Linked DNA regions of Homo sapiens. The protein of the gene in region 1 interacts with the protein of each later gene in a pairwise test. Each region holds a gene or a part of one and is shown in the gene's direction. Other genes may lie near its edges.

Region 1 (7,029 bases):
TGTTTTGACTTAGTTTTTTGGGAGGTTTTTACTCTGCTTGTTGTTGTTGTTTAGAGACAGGGTCTCGCTCTGTTGCCCAGGCTGGAGTGTGGTAGTGCGATCATAGCTCACAGCAGCCTCCAGCTCCTTGGCTCAAGCAGTCCTCCCCACTCTGCCTCCCAAGCAGCTAGGACTACAGGTTGCATGCCACCATGCCCAGCTTTTTTTTTTTTTTTTTCCTTGTAAGGGATGGGTCTCACTGTGGTACCCAGGGTGGCCTCGAACTCCTGGGCTCATGCGATCCTACCCCCTTGACCTCTGAAAGTGCTCAGGTTACAGGTGTGAGCCAGCACACCTGGTTATTTTGACGTGTGTTTGTGTGTGGCGGGGGGGGTTTTACCTTGTTTACTATGGTTTTTATACCATGAAAACGTTTTTATTATTTATTAATTAATTAAAGCTGTCATTTTCTTTTCTTTTGCTCTACTGATTCTACTGTAGGCAGAAATAGTATAGTCATGTAAAATATATGTTAAAATGTAAATTAAATGTATTTTTTAAAATATACACTTAATTCTTTGTTGCTATAATGTGTTCCTCTTCTAGGCAAGGATAAAAGCCATCAATACATTTTTTGCTAAGAATGGTTATCGATTAATGGATTCTAGTATCTATAGTCACCCCATTCAAACTCAAGCACAGTATGCCTCCCCAGTCTTTATGCAGCCTGTATATAATCCTCACCAACAGTACTCGGTCTATAGTATTGTGCCTCAGTCTTGGTCTCCAAATCCTACACCTTACTTTGAAACACCACTGGTAAGTGAGATCCTTACAATAAAATATAATAATATTTTTAATTTGAGCTGAAATTTGAAGAAATCAGTTGGAGTGGGAGCTCATTTATGTTGACATTGATGACTTTTTGGCCTTTATTTTATTTTATTTTTTGTATTTTTCGTAGAGATGGAATTTTGCCATGTTGCCCAGGCTGGTCTCGAACTCCTGTGCTCAGGCAGTCCACCCGCCTCAGCCTCCCAAAATGCTAGGATTACAAGCCACTATGCCCGGCCACTTTTTGGCTTTTAAACAGTGATATGGATATCTAATTCTCCATACCAAATAAATGCATATGACTAAGAGGTGAGCTATTAGAGCGCATAATTTTATTCCATAAAATTTGCTGAGTGAATTGAAAGAAGAGACTGGATAACTTTTGCGTGATTTTAAATGCATTTTAGTGTTGCGAAATGTCAGACCAGACATTCTTTACTAAGTTATGAATTGTTCATAAATCCAGTGGTACTTGAAGTGAATATTGCAGAAATGAATCAGTAAAATATTTTAAGATATTTTTGGCTTGTAAAAGATAAATTCATAAGCTCATTAAGGTTCTTGTGACCCTCACACCAGATTTTACCTTTGCCATTAATATTGTTTAAACATACATTTTTTTCTAGGCTCCCTTTCCCAATGGTAGTTTTGTGAATGGCTTTAATTCGCCAGGATCTTATAAAACAAATGCTGCTGCTATGAATATGGGTCGACCATTCCAAAAAAATCGGTAAGATAAAAACCATAGCTGTAATGTATTTTAAACAATTCCTAATGGATCTTAAGGCATTAATAGCAATGTTTGTTGTCAGGCTCAGTAATAAGGTTTGGTGGATTTTTTGTTTGTTTTGTTTTTACTAAGTGTATATGAACAGTTTAATCTAGAATTCGTAAAAACACTTTGACCTTTGAGTTGGTAATGCATGTAACAGACTTGGGATTCAGATTTTTTTTAATAATAAAAGAGAATAGAAAAAATATTTCATGACACCAGTCTCTGACAAATCTGGTGACTAATTTCCATTTAGTATGTTAAATGGGTAGCATTTTAGAGAATGAATTCTTTGAAGATATAAATGTTGTTAACTGAATTGTGTAATAAATGTTGGGATGTATGTTATTCAGGTTTTTAAAGGATTTTTGAAATGACACCCAAGAACTACAGTGCACAACAGACAGTAGCTAACATTTATTGCACATTTAATATCACAAACTCTGTTCCTAAGGGCTTTACATATTTTATCAGTTACTTTTTTCAGAACCCTTTATAGGTGCACTTATGTCTACTTTACAGATAAGGAATCTGAGATGTAAAATATCATGTCTGAGAACACACAGCTAGTAATTGGTAGAGCTAAGATTTGAACCTAGGCAGTTCAACTCCAAAGCCCGCACTTAAAGCACTATGTTCAGGATAAATTATTAAGAATCATAGAAACTATATGCTATCATAAAGATTGAGATGTATGTCTGAGGTATTTTTCTTTATGTAGACATCAACAGATAATCTCAATATTTGGTGTATGTTATGGCTTGTTGTTGTTGTTGTTGTGGGGGTAGAGACAGGGTCTGTTTATGTTGCCTGGGACGACTGGTCTTGAACTCCTGGGCTCAAAGCAGTCCTCCCACCTTGGCCTCCCAAATTGCTAGGATTACAGGCGTGATACTATGGCTTTTAACACAGTATGAGTAACCAAAGAATAAAGGACTGACATATAGTCATTTCGATTTATTTAATAGTTTCACATTTATTACTTCTCGTTTGCTGTTTTGTGAGACTCTTGGTTTTTGAGGGTTTTTCCTAATGGTTTATTTTCAGTGACAGTCTTTTGCCAGATTCGATTCTTCTAATTATTTCTTTTGGAAAGGAGACCATCTGGAGTATGTTTTTCCAAGATGACTTCTAGGAACTTAGTCCTTTTTTGACAGGTTTTTCTGAAACTTGTTTTACTGGAGAAATGAGCCCCAACAGAATGAAAAAATATTCTTCTCACTGGAAACATTGTGTACTACTCTTTAATAGTCAGAGTTTTTGGACTATTCTTGACAGACACAATTGGTTAAAGCAATTGAAGATCATTTTCAAGTGTTAGAAAAATTTTACTACTAAACATAAACACAGGCTGAGGTGGGTGGATCATCTGAGCTCAGGAGTTCAAGAGCAGCCTGGGCAATATGACGAAACATCATCTCTACCAAAAATACAAAAATTAGCTGGGCGTGGTGGTGTAGTGCATGCCTGAAGTCCCAACTACTCAGGAGGCTGAGGAACGAGAATTGCTTGAGCCTGAGAAGCACAGGTTGCAGTGAGCCGAGATCATACCACTGCACTCCAGCCTGGGTGACGGTGAGACTCTGTTATTCCCTGCAGCCACGCCCTCTCACCCCTCCCCGCTCCCCCCTCCAAAAAATAAAGGTACTGATATTTGCAGTTGCTTGACTCTGAAATACTTTACTTGGCTCCATGGTTATTTCTTTATTGTTACCTTTTATCCGTTGCATCTTTTTGGTGACAGCCAGGAATGACAGTCAAGTTATCTTTACTTATAAGGAAGTATACCTATGGTTTTGAAAATACATGGTGTGTTTAGTACATTTTTGCATGTTACTTAAAACCACTTGTGTACAGTTCTTTTCCATATATTTGACCAATACAGGTTGGTAATTTTTAATTACAGAAATAATTAGTGAATACTTTTTCTAAAAATGCAAATAAAGACCTTCTGGACCAGCAACCCAAATCCTTGTTTCCTTCTTGCTTCTAAAAAGTGACTACTTCTAAAAAGTGACTACTGCCAGGCATTTATTATTATTATTAATGTTAACAGCTAAGGACAAAGTCTTTTTTAGAGAGCCTTTTGCAATTTTTATATTAACCTGTGACAGCCCAGTGATGATCACTATTCCTACTTAGAGAGAATAGGACTAACTTTCAGAAATCCAGGCATTTTTCTACCTTTCATACTATCTTTCTTTCACTTTACTTCTCTTTTCTGTCTTTTATCACTTCTTTCTTTCTTCATTCTTTCTCTCTTTTGCCTGGATCGAGATTGTTAAGTCCCTCTCAGTGAAGGGTAAGATTATGAGATCTGAGGGCTGTATAAATGTAGTAAGTTGTCCCTTAAGCATATTGAAATGTAGTGTGAAAGTTGGATGAAGGACATTTTCTAAACATATGCAAATACCATATCTATCATATCAGTTCATTTTCAAGATGTAACAGGTAATATAAATTTTTTTTTTTGAGACGGAGTCGTGCTCTGTCACCGGGCTGTAGTGTAGTGGTGCAGTCTCTGCTTACTGCAACCTCTGCTTCCCGAGTTCAAGCAATTCTCTGGCCTCAGCCTTCTGAGTAGCTGGGACTACAGGCATGTGCTAGCTAATTGTTGTATTTTTAGTAGAGACGGGGTTTCATCATGTTGGCCAGGATGGTCTCAATCTCTTGACCTCGTGATCCACCCAGCTTGGCCTCCCAAAGTCCTGGGATTACAGGCATGAGCCACCATACCCGGCCTTTTTTTTTTTTTTTTTTTTTAAAGACGGAGTTTTGCTCTTGTTGTCCAGGCTGGAGTGCAATGGCGGGATCTCGGCTCACTGCAACGTCCGTCTCCCGGGTTCAAGCGATACTCCTGCCTTAGCCTTCCAATTAGCTGAGATTACAGACGCATGCCACCACGCCCAGCTAATTTTTTGTATTTTAGTAGAAACTGGGTTTCACCATGTTGGCCAGGCTGGTCTCGAACTCCTGACCTCAGGTGATCTACCCGCCTTGGCCTCCCAGAGTGCTGGCATTATAGGTGTGAGCCACCGCATCTGGCCTAACTATTTTTAAAATTACTTTTTATAGCCAGTGGGGTGGCTCATGCCTATATTCCCCACACATTGAGAAGCCAAGGCAGGCAGATCACTTGATCTCATGAGTTGGAGACCAACCTAGGCAACAGAGTGAAACCTCGTCTCTACTGACAATATAAAAATTAGCCAGGCATACTGGTGTGCACCTGTAGTCCCTGCTACTTGGGAGACTGAGGTGGGAGGATAGCTTGAGCCCAGGAGGCAGAGGTTGTAATGAGCTGAGATCGCACCACCTCGCTCCAGCCTGGGTGACACAGCCAGACCTTTCTCAAAAAAAAAAAAAATTACTTTTTGTTAAGTGACATACTATTTTCATTGCTATTTAAGAAATCTAGTTTGTAATATAAAGTAATTCTATGGCAAAGTGTCACTTTATGTGAAACTCAACCCAACTTTTTTTTTTTTTTTTAAGACAGTGTTTTGCCCTGTCACCCAGGCTGTAGTGCAGTAACATGATCATGGCTCACTGTAGTTTTGACCTCCCAGGCCCAATCAATTCTCCACCTCAGCCTTCCTAGTAGCTGGGACTACAGGCGCATACCACCATGCCTAGCTAAGTTTTTGTATTTTTTTTTTTGTAAAGACAGGGTTTTGCCATGTTGTGCAGGCTGGTCTCAAACTCCTGGGCTCCAATGATCCTCCCACCTCAGCCTCTTAAAGTGCTGGGGTTACAGATATGAGCCACTGAGCCCACTGCGCCCAGCCTGATAATTTTATCTTTGTTTTTGTTTGTTTGTTTTTGTTTTTTGTTTGTTTTTGTATTTTTAGTTAGAGACAGAGGGTTTCACCATGTTGGCCAGGGTGGTCTTGATCTCTTGACCTCGTGATGCACCCGCCTTGGCCTCCCAAAGTGCTGGGATTACAGGTGTGAGCCACCACACCCAGCTACTTTAAGTTTTAATAATGGTAATTTTTTATGGTCTGTAAAGAATAAAACAGGACAACTAGAGATGCTGTGGGAATTTACGTTTAATTGGTGGGGTTATAATTATTCAAGAGGTTTTAAATCCTTATTCCTAGAGTCAGGAATTGGCAACATGTGATTTATATTGTTGGTTTATAACTATGAAAATAGATTACAAAAACTGAGATATATAAACTGCAAATAATGGGCCAAACATAAATCTCACTCTTCTTAATCTGTAGATCCAAGATCCTCAGTTGCTTGAGATTTTAGGTGTTTTTGCTACTGATTAAACTACATTCTTTTTATATTAGTCAACCTTAGCTTCATCTGTTGTAAGCTTTTAGGAAGTTGGGTGCTTATACCCATCATCCAAGATAAAAACTCCCTTTGTTAAAAGCAGATTGGTTGGTTTAACCACATTGCATACCTTAATTCATGCAGTCATGCCATGCTATTGGGTGCATTGGTATTTTCCTAGTTTGCTGTCCTACATATGGATCTTTTGATAAATCTCATTTGGTGATGGATGTTTAGTAAGATGCTAGGTTTTGTTTGTTTTGTTTTTTGAGACGGAGTTTTGTTTTTGTTGCCCAGGCTGGAGTGCAATGGTGTGATCTTGGCTCCCTGCAAACTCCACCTCCTGGGTTCAAGAGATTCTCCTGCCTCAGCCTCCTGAATAGCTGGGATTACAGGTGTTTGCCACCATGCCAGGCTAATTTTTGTATTTTTAGTAGAGATGGGGATTCACCATGTTAGCCAGGCTGGTCTAGAACTCCTGACCTCAGGTGATCTGCCCGTCTCCACTTCCCAAAGTTCTGGGATTACAGGCGTGAGCCACCATGCCCGGCTGAGGCTAGGATTTTAATTATATTCCAATATTTCTTACTCTCTTCATTATTACTCCCCTAAACAGCCTTTTTAGGCATTTTCCTCCTAGTTTCTGCCTGTGAAAATTTACTACTACAGATTATTGTATGTCTGTATGTATGTAATGTATGTATCTGTGCTTTATACATAAAATGATTACTTTTTGCCCTTCCTTCGCCCCCGTTTTTACTCCCATTAGCGTGGTTTTGCTTCCATTAAGAATGCATAGCTGGGCCTGGTGGCTCACACCTGTAATCCCAGCACTCTGGGAGGCCGAGGTGAGCAGATCACCAGGTCAGGAGATCGAGACCATCGTGGCCAACATGGTGAAACCCCATCTCTACTAAAAATACAAAAATTATCTAGGTGTGGTGGCACGTGCCTATAGTCCCAGCTACTCGGGAGGCTGAGGCAGGAGAATCTCTTGAACCCGGGAGGCGGAGGTTGCAGTGACCTGAGATCGCGCCATTGCACTCCAGCCTGGCGACAGAGCAAGACTCCGTATCAAAAAAAAAAAAAAAAAAAAAAAAGGGTGTTATAGGCCAGGTGTGATGGCTCATGCCTGTAATCCCGACACTTTGGGAGGC
Region 2 (4,917 bases), on another chromosome or scaffold:
ATGTATAACTGTACGTGTGCATGTTTGTATTAGATGGGTGGATGAATATGTGTATGATGTATGTATGATCATATCGATGGGTAAATGCAGGCATGATGTATGTGCGTATGGTGTATGCATGTATAATTGTACGTGTGCATGTTTGCATTAGACGGATGGGATGAATGCACATGGGTATGATGTATGCATGTGTTCATGCACACATGCAGGTATGATTGGATGGATAGATGGATGGATGGGTGAATAGACGCCCCACAGCTGGATGCAAAGTAGACAGATGTGAACCCAGCACCTCTCACCAATAAGTGTCCTCATCCCCGGGCACCCTGCGGCTCTCCTGGGCCTCTTCCCCACTTACCCACCCCCATCTCCGCTCTTATCCCCCAGGTTTGGTTCAAGAACCGGAGGGCTAAATGCAGGCAGCAGCGACAGCAGCAGAAACAGCAGCAGCAGCCCCCAGGGGGCCAGGCCAAGGCCCGGCCTGCCAAGAGGAAGGCGGGCACGTCCCCAAGACCCTCCACAGATGTGTGTCCAGACCCTCTGGGCATCTCAGATTCCTACAGTCCCCCTCTGCCCGGCCCCTCAGGCTCCCCAACCACGGCAGTGGCCACTGTGTCCATCTGGAGCCCAGCCTCAGAGTCCCCTTTGCCTGAGGCGCAGCGGGCTGGGCTGGTGGCCTCAGGGCCGTCTCTGACCTCCGCCCCCTATGCCATGACCTACGCCCCGGCCTCCGCTTTCTGCTCTTCCCCCTCCGCCTATGGGTCTCCGAGCTCCTATTTCAGCGGCCTAGACCCCTACCTTTCTCCCATGGTGCCCCAGCTAGGGGGCCCGGCTCTTAGCCCCCTCTCTGGCCCCTCCGTGGGACCTTCCCTGGCCCAGTCCCCCACCTCCCTATCAGGCCAGAGCTATGGCGCCTACAGCCCCGTGGATAGCTTGGAATTCAAGGACCCCACGGGCACCTGGAAATTCACCTACAATCCCATGGACCCTCTGGACTACAAGGATCAGAGTGCCTGGAAGTTTCAGATCTTGTAGAGGACGCAGTCTCCATCTCTCTCCATCGGGCCTCGGGACCCTTTCTCTTCTGAATCTGCTTCCCTGCAGTTTAGATCCCGGGATGGCATTCCTGAGAAAGCAACCCGAACCAGCTGTCCTTCTGACAGCTCGGTGTTCAGCTTACAGAGACCACCCCTTTCCTCCACAGGGAGAGGCTCCTCCCTCTCCTGGGACAGCTCACAGGTCCTAGTGATTCTCTCAACCCTAACACCGTCTGGCACGATTGTGACCGCTGAAGTACACCACGAGCTCCAGGCTTCAGAAAGTGGTGCTGAGAACTTGCTCCAAGAAGAAGTCAAACCAAACTTGCAGTTGATTTGGGGTCATGTTTAGGTCAGAATCACCGTGCCCTTGAACAAGCAGGTAGGGGGGCTTGATAACTTAACTTTCCACGTGGACAGAATTTTTTTTTTTGTTTTGTTTTTGTTTTGCAGACACAGTCTAGCTCTGTCGCCCAGGCTGGAGTGCAGTGGCACGATCTCAGCTCACTGCAAGCTCTACCTCCCGGGTTCACGCCATTCTCCTGCCTCAGCCTCCCGAGTAGCTGGGACTACAGATGCCCACCACCAGGCCCGGCTAATTTTTTTTGTATTTTTAGTAGAGACGGGGTTTCACCGTGTTAGCCAGGATGGTCTCGATCTCCTGACCTCGTGATCCGCCCGCCTCGGCCTCCCAAAGTGCTAGGATTACAGGCGTGAGCCACCGCGCCCGGCCCTTTTTTTTTTTTTTTTTTTTAATTGAGACGGAGTCTCACTCTTTTGCTTAGGCTGGAGTGCAGTGGTGTGATCTCAGCTCACTGACTGCAACCTCCACCTCCCGGGTTGAAGCGTTGCTCCTGCCTCAATCTCCCAATTAGCTGGGATTACAGGTGTGCTCCATCATGCCCGGCTAATTTTTCTATTATTAGTAGAGACAGGGTTTTACCATGTTGGCCAGGCTGGTCTGGAACCCCTGACCTCAAGTGATCCGCCTGCCTCGGCCTCCCAAAGTGCTGGGATTACAGGCATGAGCCATTGTGCCTGGCCCTACACGTGGACACTTCTTTAGCATATGGTTAGGGACCTTTCTAGAAATTCCAAAGACAGACTTTAAGAAGCCCCGTCGGGAAACCTTAGGCCAATGATGTGGTTACATTAAAAATAAATTATCTGGGAATTTCACAGACTTCACAAATGTCAGGCTTACATGGTAGGTTTAGGGGACCGTTTGAGAGACAAAGATCTACATTCATATATGTAGCTATACATATATGTACTTTTTCTTCTTAGTTTCTTTTTAAAGACATTTTATCACTCATTCGCTCATTAGCACATTGGGAATGTGTGTATTTGGTAGGGAAATGAAAGGCACCTTGCCTGTTCCATCTCTACTCCTTTTTTCTTTTGTTTTAGGATTTTCTAAAGGTGAGACACTGGTGGAACTGGGGTAGCTGCTTGGGACGTACCACCTATAGTTGTGGCTATTTCACAGAGAAGCAGCAGCTAGACAGACTCCCATCTGTAAATAAACAAGAGATAGGAAGAGGGGGAAATAGATTTGGAGGAGGCAGCCCTACATTTCAAACATACATTCCCTTTTTTAGATTTTTTTTTTTTTTTTTTTGGTTTTCAGTTTTGATGGTGGGATTGGAAAATAGAGCTTGGCTTGAGGACATTTTCCTGGGGTGGCACCATTATTTCTTGAAATAGAATCTTACTTATGGTGACACTGGCAAGCACTTGTGAGAACCTGAAGACGGATTGAGGTCATTTGATGCTCAGAAGTTGGGTGCTGGGTCCCTGCCTTCTCAGTCCGAGTTCTCCTTTCATTTTTGGGTGGGGAGGCGGGTTCCAAGAGCCCTTCATTGGTGGAGTTCACAAGGCAAGGTGTAAAAAAAAAAGTAGGGCAGGAAGACAGTGGTGTGCTGGCAGAGGTCTAACAATGGGCTCTCCAAGGAAGAGGAAAAGGTTGGTTGTGGAGTGTTTGTCAGTTTCCGTGGTGTAAATACTCCCACCACGGCTGACTTCAAGCTAGCAACCGGAGGTCACTGAACTAAGAGTTGGGAAGAGATAGGGCACAATATATGCTTACGAGTTGGTACACACCGTCAGCAGCAGCCAGGGTCAGGAGAAAGGCGAGATGTGAAGAGAGGCCGGGAGGTATCAGATGACGTTTCCAGCACTAGACCAGAAGAGGTGCACACAGCCTAGACCCCCTGAGGGGTACACCCTGATCTCTAGAGCCCACAAAGAGGTTTTTATTCAACATAAAACGTGTTCATCTCTCATAGGCCTGAGTCATGCTGGGTTCTGGGACATTAAGCCCAGGAGTGGGCCGGGTGCGGTGGCTCACGCCTGTAATCCCAGCACTTTGGGAGGCCGAGGCGGGTGGATCACCTGAGGTCAGGAGTTCGAGACCAGCCTGGCCAACATGGTGAAACCCTGTCTCTACTAATAATACAAAAATTAGCCGGGCATGGTGGCACGCGCCTGTAATCCCAGCTACTCGGGAGGCTGAGGCAGGAGAATTGCTGGAACCCGGGAGGCGGAGGTTGAAGAGAGCAGAGATTGTGCCACTGTGCTCTAGCCTGGGTCACAAGAGCGAAACTCCGTCTCAATAATAACAACAACAAAAATAACCCAGGAGTGGCTCAAGAGTCCAGTGTGGGATGAAAATATAAACAGAGGAAGACAACATATGTCACTGGGGAGGCTGGGGGAGCTAGACAAAATTCACACGGGAGGGGCAGGGATGAGACAATATTGTGCCCTGGGTCTGTGCAAACGTTGGGACCAGAATCCACTATAAGTTTCATTCTTCGGAGACACGGAAGCTCTGCACTGGAGGCCGGGACTCAGGCGTGGAAGAGAATCTTCTCCTTATTCACCGGGGAGGCTGTGTCTTGTGCAAACAAGTCATAGAAACTTGATGGGAGTTGGGGAGGGACTGAAGGATGCATGCAAGGTTCTGGGAAGGAGTGAGAAGTAGTGAAGGCCAAGGGGCCCCCATCACAGGCCGATGGGGTAAGACTTCGAGAGAGCCTGATCCTGGGGTCTTCTGAGACTCCACCAGGAGCCGGAGAGGGCAGGGAGCCAAATCCAGCTAGGAGGTTACAGATTGCTTTTCCTGGGCTGGGCTCCTGAGTGTTGGTTCTTCCAGCTGTGCACAGGGGATTTCAAACGTTCTACGTCCTAAAGCCAGGAAGAGTGACAAGGCAGGTGGGGACAGAAGGAAGAAGCCAGGAGCCTCCCTGAGAAGGTGTCACCTTATCTGTCCTCCTCTTCCCCACACACTGGCCTCTGGGTCCCCCTTCTCTGTCCACCCACAGAGTGAAACCAATTAAAATGTTGGATCTCATTTAAAGTCTGGGTGATTCTTTAGTTTCCGTGTTTTCTCCAGGAGGGGCAGGTAGAAACAGGAACTACTCTGTTCCTTCTGTCTGTGGGGCCTGGGTCCCTCCATGTGTTTCCTGTCTCATCACCCTCCTTTCCTTGACATCTCTCTAAAGCCAATTTATGAAGGATCAGGGGCTGGGTGCAGTGGCTCACGCATGTAATCCAGTGCTCTGAGAAGCTGAGGAGGGAAGATTGATTAAGGCCAGGAGTTTGAGACCAGCCCAGGCAACATAGCGAGATCTCTGTCTCTACAAAAAATTAAAAAAATCAACCGGGTGTGGTGATGTGTGCCTGTGGTCCCAGCTACTCGGGAGGCTGAGATGAGAGGATCGGTTGAGCCCAGGAGTTTGAGGCTGCAGGGAGCTATGATTGCACCACTGCACTCCAGCCTGGGTGATGCAACAAGAGACCCTGTCTCCAAAAACAAAAAATAAAAAAAAAAAAAAAAGAAGGAGGAGGAGGAACAGGGGTCCCCAGGGCCAGCCCC
Region 3 (7,246 bases), on another chromosome or scaffold:
AGGATTACAGGCGTGAGCCACTGTGCCCCACAGGCAAGTTTTTAAATTTCAGGTCATGATCCATTGGTGAGTGGTGAGATCAACTTAGTAAGTCATGACCTGAATACTTTTAATAAAACAGATGAGACTAAACTGGAAAGTATCAGAATGTATATAATAACAGTGAAATATTGTTCTGTGAAATTTTTGTCTGAAATGCATTGGATTGACTTTTTTTTTTTTTTTTTTTTTCCTGAGACGGAGTTTTGCTCTTGTTGCCCAAGGTGGAGTGCAATGGTGTGATCTCGGCTCACTCACTACAACCTCTGCCTCTTGGGTTCAAGCAGTTCTCCTATCTCAGCCTCCTAAGTAGCTGGGATAACAGGTGCCCGTCACTATGTCCGGCTGATTTTTGGTATTTTTAGTAAAGCTGGGGTTTTACCATGTTGGCCAGACTGGTCTCGAACTCCTGACCTCAGACGATCCGCCCGCCTTGGCCTCCCAAAGTGCTGGGATTACAGGCATGAGCCACCACACTCGGCCTGATTGACTTCTTTCTAAGTGGCTCAATTTTTTCTTTTTTCTTTTTTAAGAGAGCAATGGTTACTCAGGAGTATAGGAGAGAGGGTAGCGGTCACTTATTGCTATAGCCCAACCAAGCTTTGGCTGCCCTATGCTTAAATATACTTAAGATGTGTGTAAAGACATACGTGTGTGTATTGAGACATGATGTAAAATGTATTTCTTACCGTGAGCTGAGATAAAAATTTTTGAGGCTTCATAAGCAGGTAAAAAGTGATATCTGAGCAAGCAAGTTGTGGGGATGTATAGGGGAGCTTGGGGCTCTAAATTCTTGCACAGGAAGGGCCCGGGAGTTACTATAGATAGTAACAGTATAGACTCATTCAGCACACAGTGTAAGGCCACCAAGATGCTGAGTCCCAATAGGAAAGAAGAGAAAGATCCCATCTTTCTCTTGTACGAAATTATGTTCTCTCCCCACTTAGAAGAGACAAAACAGCAGGGACGGCTACAAAATGGCAGGATTACCCAGTGCAGCTGCTCAGTGCCACATTGCACAACTCCAGAGGGTGCTCTCACACAGACTGCAATGTGAATAGCTCCCCCTGGAGTTGAGCGGTGCACAACCCAAACAACCCTACCAGGCAACCGTAAGTATAGTGATTAAGAGCACAAGCTTTGGAGTCCAACAAACCTGGGGGCCTGTCTCAGACTGAATCCCAGACTATATAACCTGGGGCAGGTTATTTAGCCTCCTTGAGCCTCAATTTTCCAAACAGAATATGTTATACATCCCTAGGGCCTATTTCAGTGTCTGGCATTGAATAACAATAAACACGTGTCAAATGCATCGAGCTAATACTAGTACCTGCCTAAAAGGTGGTGGTGAGGAGCAAAGAAATTGACATACGAAAGGTTTTTAATATCTACAAAAGATGACAGACTGAAATAGTAACATTCTCCAGGATGGAAAGATCTATGCCACGTAGGAATTGTTTGTTCAAATTATTATTTTTTAAAAGCCATAAGCTATGGAGAGAATAACAGAGTTTTGTTTTGTTTTTTAATCCTGATACGGTGGAAGTCTGGTAGGATGGGAACCGTTCTTGAAGCTTGAGAATACATTCGGAACAAATAAAAAGTAGGAAATGCATACATTTTGTTATTTACAGTTGTAGGGCAGGTAAGGGCAAAACGTATTGATAAACTCAAAGAATTTTAAGAATGATATTGTCATGAGCCATGAGCCATGGAAGCTGCAAGGTTTGGGCTCCCTCCTGCCATCGGGTGGGGGGTGTCGGCGGAAGGGGGTACGTGTCCTGTCCTCTCCCAGTGCTTATTTCCTGCTGGAACCGTGGTTTTGACGCAGCCGTGACAGCCCTTCATCCTTATTAAAATCACACAATGAAGCAGGTCGCCCAAGATTGAAAGCGCGTTTCCAGGGCGGACCCCGGTCCCCGCCTTTGGCCAGCAAAAGTACATTCTGGCAGGGAGGGATCTCTGAGCCCCGAAGTGAGGTCATGCCAGTTAGCAGTTAGAAAAGGAGGCATTTCTCACACTTGCTAAAGAGTTTGACGCTTGTGAAATATAAACAGGAAGCGGGAGCTCTCCAAGGCGACCTGAAGGAAATACACTGCCAGTTTGGTCAACTTGTGAATGCCAGTTCTCTAGGTCGTCAAGGGCACTGCCAGTTAAGACTGATCCCCTAACTGCACCCGAGGCTACTACTCTTCGCCCAGTCTCGGCAGTGACCCCATTTTTTTTTCAATCCTTCCCACAGCCAGGTCACTCAGCAGTGGGGTGACTGACCCGAAGCGCAGTGGGAAGGGCTTACAGTCATCTCTCAACTCCCCGAACTTGCAGGGCAGGGGAGCGCAGAGGTCAGTGAAATCCCCAGCCAGGCCTTATTTTAGTCATGAGTTTCCACTGGCTCCCTCCTCTGACTGTATCAGCGCTGCTCACACCGCGGGATTGGAGTTTCAGCTGTTTTCCCTGCTCCCGGCTGAGTGAGAAGGTCACAGAGCCCGGACCTTTCCGGGGGAGGTGGGTGGGGCCCTCCGGCAGCCTAAGTGAGATTGCAGAGATCTGGGGCCGCTGGAGGAGGTCCTTCCGCCCCGGGCTTGGGGCTTTGGGTTAGCTTCTCCCCCGCTTCTCTACCTAGGCATCTCGGTTACAATGAAATTAAAAACAAAACACAAAGCAACACAAGTTCTCATTGTTTTTCCCCTCTGTCAGCCAGTGGCCTCGATACAATTTTCCCAGGGCTGCCTTTCCTTTATTGCTCAATTTAACCTCTTCCTAGAGGTTCTGCAAGTTCAAGGGCAGGATCCGTGTCGGATTCATCAACTAGTGCAGCGCCTAGTGCAGAGCAGGGGGCTCAAGAAATACGTGTCGACCGCATGATTGCTAAGATTTCCCTGTAACAGGCGGTTTTTTTTTCTTGTCTCTCTCATCCCTCCTGCCCTGGGTGCAGACCGCGAACAGCGCCGCCGAACTTCCCAACAGGCAGGGAGAGGGCCGATCCGGGCTGGCACGCCACGTCCCCGGGGTCTCAGTCCCTGGGTCAACGCAGAGAGGCTCGCGGTCCGCGGTGCTACGACCTGAGCCCGGCCACGTGAAGCGTCACGCCCTGCGCTGCTGCAGGGCAGGCGCCGCCGCCGCGGTTGTGTAACGCTGCAGCCGGAGGGGAGGCGACCGGGGCGCCTCTGCTCCGGAGGGGGCAGAGGAGGGAGGGAGCGCCGGGCACAGCGCCCGGTATCTTTCTGCGCTTGACTGGCCGGGAGGAAGGGGGTGACACTGGGGCACCCAGGGGGCTGCGCAACCGGGTGCCCGCCCGCCCGCAGGTTGTGCCCAGGAGCGGAGCTCCTGGGAGCGAGGGGCCCTCGGCTCACACCCTCCACGGTCAGGTGCGCGCGGCGTGCTCGGCGGCAGCCTCAGCTGCCCCTGCGCTTGGCCGTCGGCCCGCTTCCCATGGGGTGACATCCGCCCCGCCCCTCGGTCCCTCCCCAAGGCGGGCAATTCCTGGACGCGAGGGTGAGCAGTGGGGGCAGGGAAGCCAGGACGGAAAGAAACCCCAGCCTCTGGGGAAGGCTGGGGGGCCGGGCGACTCCCTCCGCAGCGCGCCGGTTCCTCCAAGCGGGCCGGGCGGGGGAGGAGGAAGAGGGCTGGGCTGGAGCTAGCAAGGGGATATTCCTCTCCCGGCTTGAGTCAGACGCGGGCGGATCCGTCCTCCCCCGTTCCCTCCCAGGAGACGGGAACTTACTTCATTTCCCTGGGGCAGGTTCGCCCACGTTACCAACTTCTCCCCCTCCCCCAGCACCCCCGTCCCTTCCAGCTTCCGCGCCCCCCACCCAACTGGGCAGGACCCAGGTCGTGCTGCCACCCCCTCTTCGGGGAAAGGCGGCCGCAGCCGCAGACACCTGGGGGCCGGGGCTGGGGGTGGGGGCTCCCTAGCAGCCGCCGGAGCGTTGTCCAACACGTGAGACTCATGTGATGAAGCCGGGGGAGGGCGGGCAGGTCGCTCCTTCCCTCCCCGGCAGTGGCCAGACGTGCCTGGAGTCACAGGGTAGAACACGTAGCTCCAACCCACCCACTCGCTCCCATTTAACCCAGCCCGCAGCCTCTCCATTACTCCTCGGCTTGCCCCCCCACCCCCCCACTCCGCCCTAACCGCCCCCCCCTCACCCGCTCCCTCCCGCCTCCCCGCCCGCCCCACTTCTCATTCACTTGGCTCGCACGGCGCAGACAGACCGCGCAGGGAGCACACACCGCCAGTCTGTGCGCTGAGTCGGAGCCAGAGGCCGCGGGGACACCGGGCCATGCACGCCCCCAACTGAAGCTGCATCTCAAAGCCGAAGATTCCAGCAGCCCAGGGGATTTCAAAGAGCTCAGACTCAGAGGAACATCTGCGGAGAGACCCCCGAAGCCCTCTCCAGGGCAGTCCTCATCCAGACGCTCCGCTAGTGCAGACAGGAGCGCGCAGTGGCCCCGGCTCGCCGCGCCATGGAGCGGATCCCCAGCGCGCAACCACCCCCCGCCTGCCTGCCCAAAGCACCGGGACTGGAGCACGGAGACCTACCAGGGTAAGTTGGCACTCCTTGGCCCTTCAAGCCTCAACTGCAGCCCCATGTTATGCGCCACTCTCAACTTGGAGCAGCTCCGGGCGCACCGGGAGGTTCTTGCCCGGCAGAACGCCTGCAGCCGTGCGCAAGCAGTCACGACCCTTCCTGGTCTCTCTTCCTGCAGGATGTACCCTGCCCACATGTACCAAGTGTACAAGTCAAGACGGGGAATAAAGCGGAGCGAGGACAGCAAGGTAAGCAAGTGCACCCCTAGGGACCCTGCGCTCAGCCCCTCGCGCGCGCTGAGTTTCCAAGAAAAGTTTTCTCGCTTTGAGGTTGGCGAGGGGATGCAGGGTGTGGGCTCGGTGCCTCTTCTGAGTGACTTGGAAAAGAAAGGGCAGACGATGGTTCTGGGTGCTACTCTGCTACTCTGCTCCTCTGCCGGACTGTTGCTGCGGGGCTGGGAGGATAGGCTTCTCATCTCCTTCCCCAAGCGCCCACCGCCTCCCCGTGCGTCTTGCAGGAGACCTACAAATTGCCGCACCGGCTCATCGAGAAAAAGAGACGTGACCGGATTAACGAGTGCATCGCCCAGCTGAAGGATCTCCTACCCGAACATCTCAAACTTACAGTAAGTGAGAAGCTGGCCCCTTTCCAACCCAGTCCTTTGCCCAGAGGGCGGGCGGGTCACTCGCCGCCTGCAGGTTCCGCGGGGAACTGCAGACCAGACTGGCGGATCAGAGCTGGCGGGTGGCTCTGCGGTGGGGTCCTCCTCCACAGTCCTGGCGTTTTCTGGCTGACTCATGCAAATGAGGCGAGAACCACTTGGACCTCTCCAAGTTGGCTCCAACACCAACTGGCCTTCCTTTTCAGGAGTTTAACTTCTGGTGATTTTCAGGATTCCCTAGTTTTTCTCACTTAAAGGAACACGCCAAGAAACACACACATTTTATTTACCCCTTCCCCTCTACCACTCCCCCCACCTTTTTTGTTGTTGTTGTCAAATAAGGGGACTTGCTTTGGTGTGTGATTTTTACGGCCTGTCCTTTCTTGACAGTAGCCCTCGGCTACTTCGCAGCCTTTGGTTGGGGAAATGGAAAAAAAAAAAATAGTATTTCGGGAGGAACAAAAAAGCCTGGATGAGCTGGAAGTTCTGAAAGGGTGTAAGGAAAGAAGTAGGGAAAGCCTCTTGGCTGCCAGACGTAATAGAGGTCCCTCTCTGAGTTGACACCACTGCAGGAAAATGTTATCTCTGGATTCCCCTGAGTTAAGGTCGGCAGAGGCTGCTGGAGAAATTTATCTGTCAAAGGATTTTCCTGAGGTAGTTGCAGCTTCCAAAATGCCTCCAAAGACAGGTGGCACCCGTTTTTTTAAATTATTTAATTATATATATATATTATATATATATACACACACACACACACACACACACACACACACATATATGAGTGTATCTGTCTATCTTTTTAAAAGCATGACCTACAGACTTAAAACAGCCAACCAGGAAACACTATTCCACTTTTTTTTTTCTTTTCTCATTTCTCATTGCTAATAAATGTCCCAAAGGTGGGACTTCTCTGACCTCACCGCTGACTAAGGCTCTTTTCCTTCCAGACTTTGGGTCACTTGGAAAAAGCAGTGGTTCTTGAACTTACCTTGAAGCATGTGAAAGCACTAACAAACCTAATTGATCAGCAGCAGCAGAAAATCATTGCCCTGCAGAGTGGTTTACAAGCTGGTGAGTGCTGATTCTGGCTATGCTCTCTTTAAGAGTTTGAGTGCAAATAGAGAGCCCGTGGGCTCAACATCTGATGTAATAAACATTACTGCAACAAATTGCTTATGCACGTTCATTGGGGGAGATGCAGTTTTATCTTTCCTAAAAGGTCAGACTTTTCATTTGAAATGCATTGTGCCACCTGGCATGAATACGTATTAGTGAAATGATAAGATATTCCTGTGGCATTTTAGCTTGAGAGTCTCTGGGTTCTGGGAGATTTCCCTACTCCCTTTTAAAATGCCAAGGCACCTATAATTTGCATTGTGGGTGTTTTACAGTTGGTCTTCTTAGCCCTCTTTCATTGGAGAAGAAATCATGGGTATGCCCCAGCGTTTTCCTGTTTCTTTGCTTCCTTGTCACTTGGTGTGTGGTGTGATCCTGGCAGGATACAGCAGGAGTTTTTCCTGCATTTCATGTGGTTCCCTGAATAGCCACTAGGTATCTTGGTGAATTGCACAATCTAGCGAAACCACTGAAGTTTCATCATTCGTTTCTACTGACTTCCAGATAATCGGAGTCAACCTTCTAACCTTCTAGTCTCACTTCTTCCAAATAATACTGTACAGACTGGGGAGAATTATTCTACCCACTCCCTCATTTCATGCTTGTCTGCCTTCCTCTCGAAGGCTCGTATGATGAAAATTGCAAAAACCCAGCTAGTGCTTCTGCCTGTTTCCTCATTCAAAATAGGAAGATGGTCATACCTAATGTCTTGAGGATCATGGATAGAATATGTGGAGAAGACATAGAAATAGCCTAATTAAAGGTCACAGCATGACTGCAACTTTTACAAATCATTGAAAATAAGTTTACTTTAGGTGATTGTTGTTTCTTCATTCTTTTCCTCATTTTATAACTATCCAGCCTCTGCCCATTTTGCCACGGTGCAATGTTGTATGCATTG

Evidence for each region.
Region 2: the proteins of LARP4 (region 1) and CRX interact in binary tests that used the Homo sapiens proteins (3 or more experiments, as listed by UniProt).
Region 3: the proteins of LARP4 (region 1) and BHLHE40 interact in binary tests that used the Homo sapiens proteins (3 or more experiments, as listed by UniProt).

The regions. Positions count from the first base shown.
Region 1 is NC_000012.12:50,452,875-50,459,903, forward strand, and holds part of LARP4 (la-related protein 4), read left to right. Parts: intron 1-585; coding exon 586-798; intron 799-1,439; coding exon 1,440-1,543; coding exon of another isoform or gene 1,544-1,547; exon of another isoform or gene 1,548-3,554; intron 3,555-3,696; exon of another isoform or gene 3,697-3,912; intron 3,913-7,029. UniProt on the Homo sapiens protein: RNA binding protein that binds to the poly-A tract of mRNA molecules. Associates with the 40S ribosomal subunit and with polysomes. Plays a role in the regulation of mRNA translation.
Region 2 is NC_000019.10:47,838,933-47,843,849, forward strand, and holds the end of CRX (cone-rod homeobox protein), read left to right. Parts: intron 1-387; coding exon 388-1,035; 3' UTR 1,036-4,392; downstream 4,393-4,917. UniProt on the Homo sapiens protein: Transcription factor that binds and transactivates the sequence 5'-TAATC[CA]-3' which is found upstream of several photoreceptor-specific genes, including the opsin genes.
Region 3 is NC_000003.12:4,975,216-4,982,461, forward strand, and holds the start of BHLHE40 (class E basic helix-loop-helix protein 40), read left to right. Parts: upstream 1-4,221; 5' UTR 4,222-4,503; coding exon 4,504-4,583; exon of another isoform or gene 4,584-4,746; coding exon 4,747-4,816; intron 4,817-5,085; coding exon 5,086-5,193; intron 5,194-6,176; coding exon 6,177-6,300; intron 6,301-7,246. UniProt on the Homo sapiens protein: Transcriptional repressor involved in the regulation of the circadian rhythm by negatively regulating the activity of the clock genes and clock-controlled genes.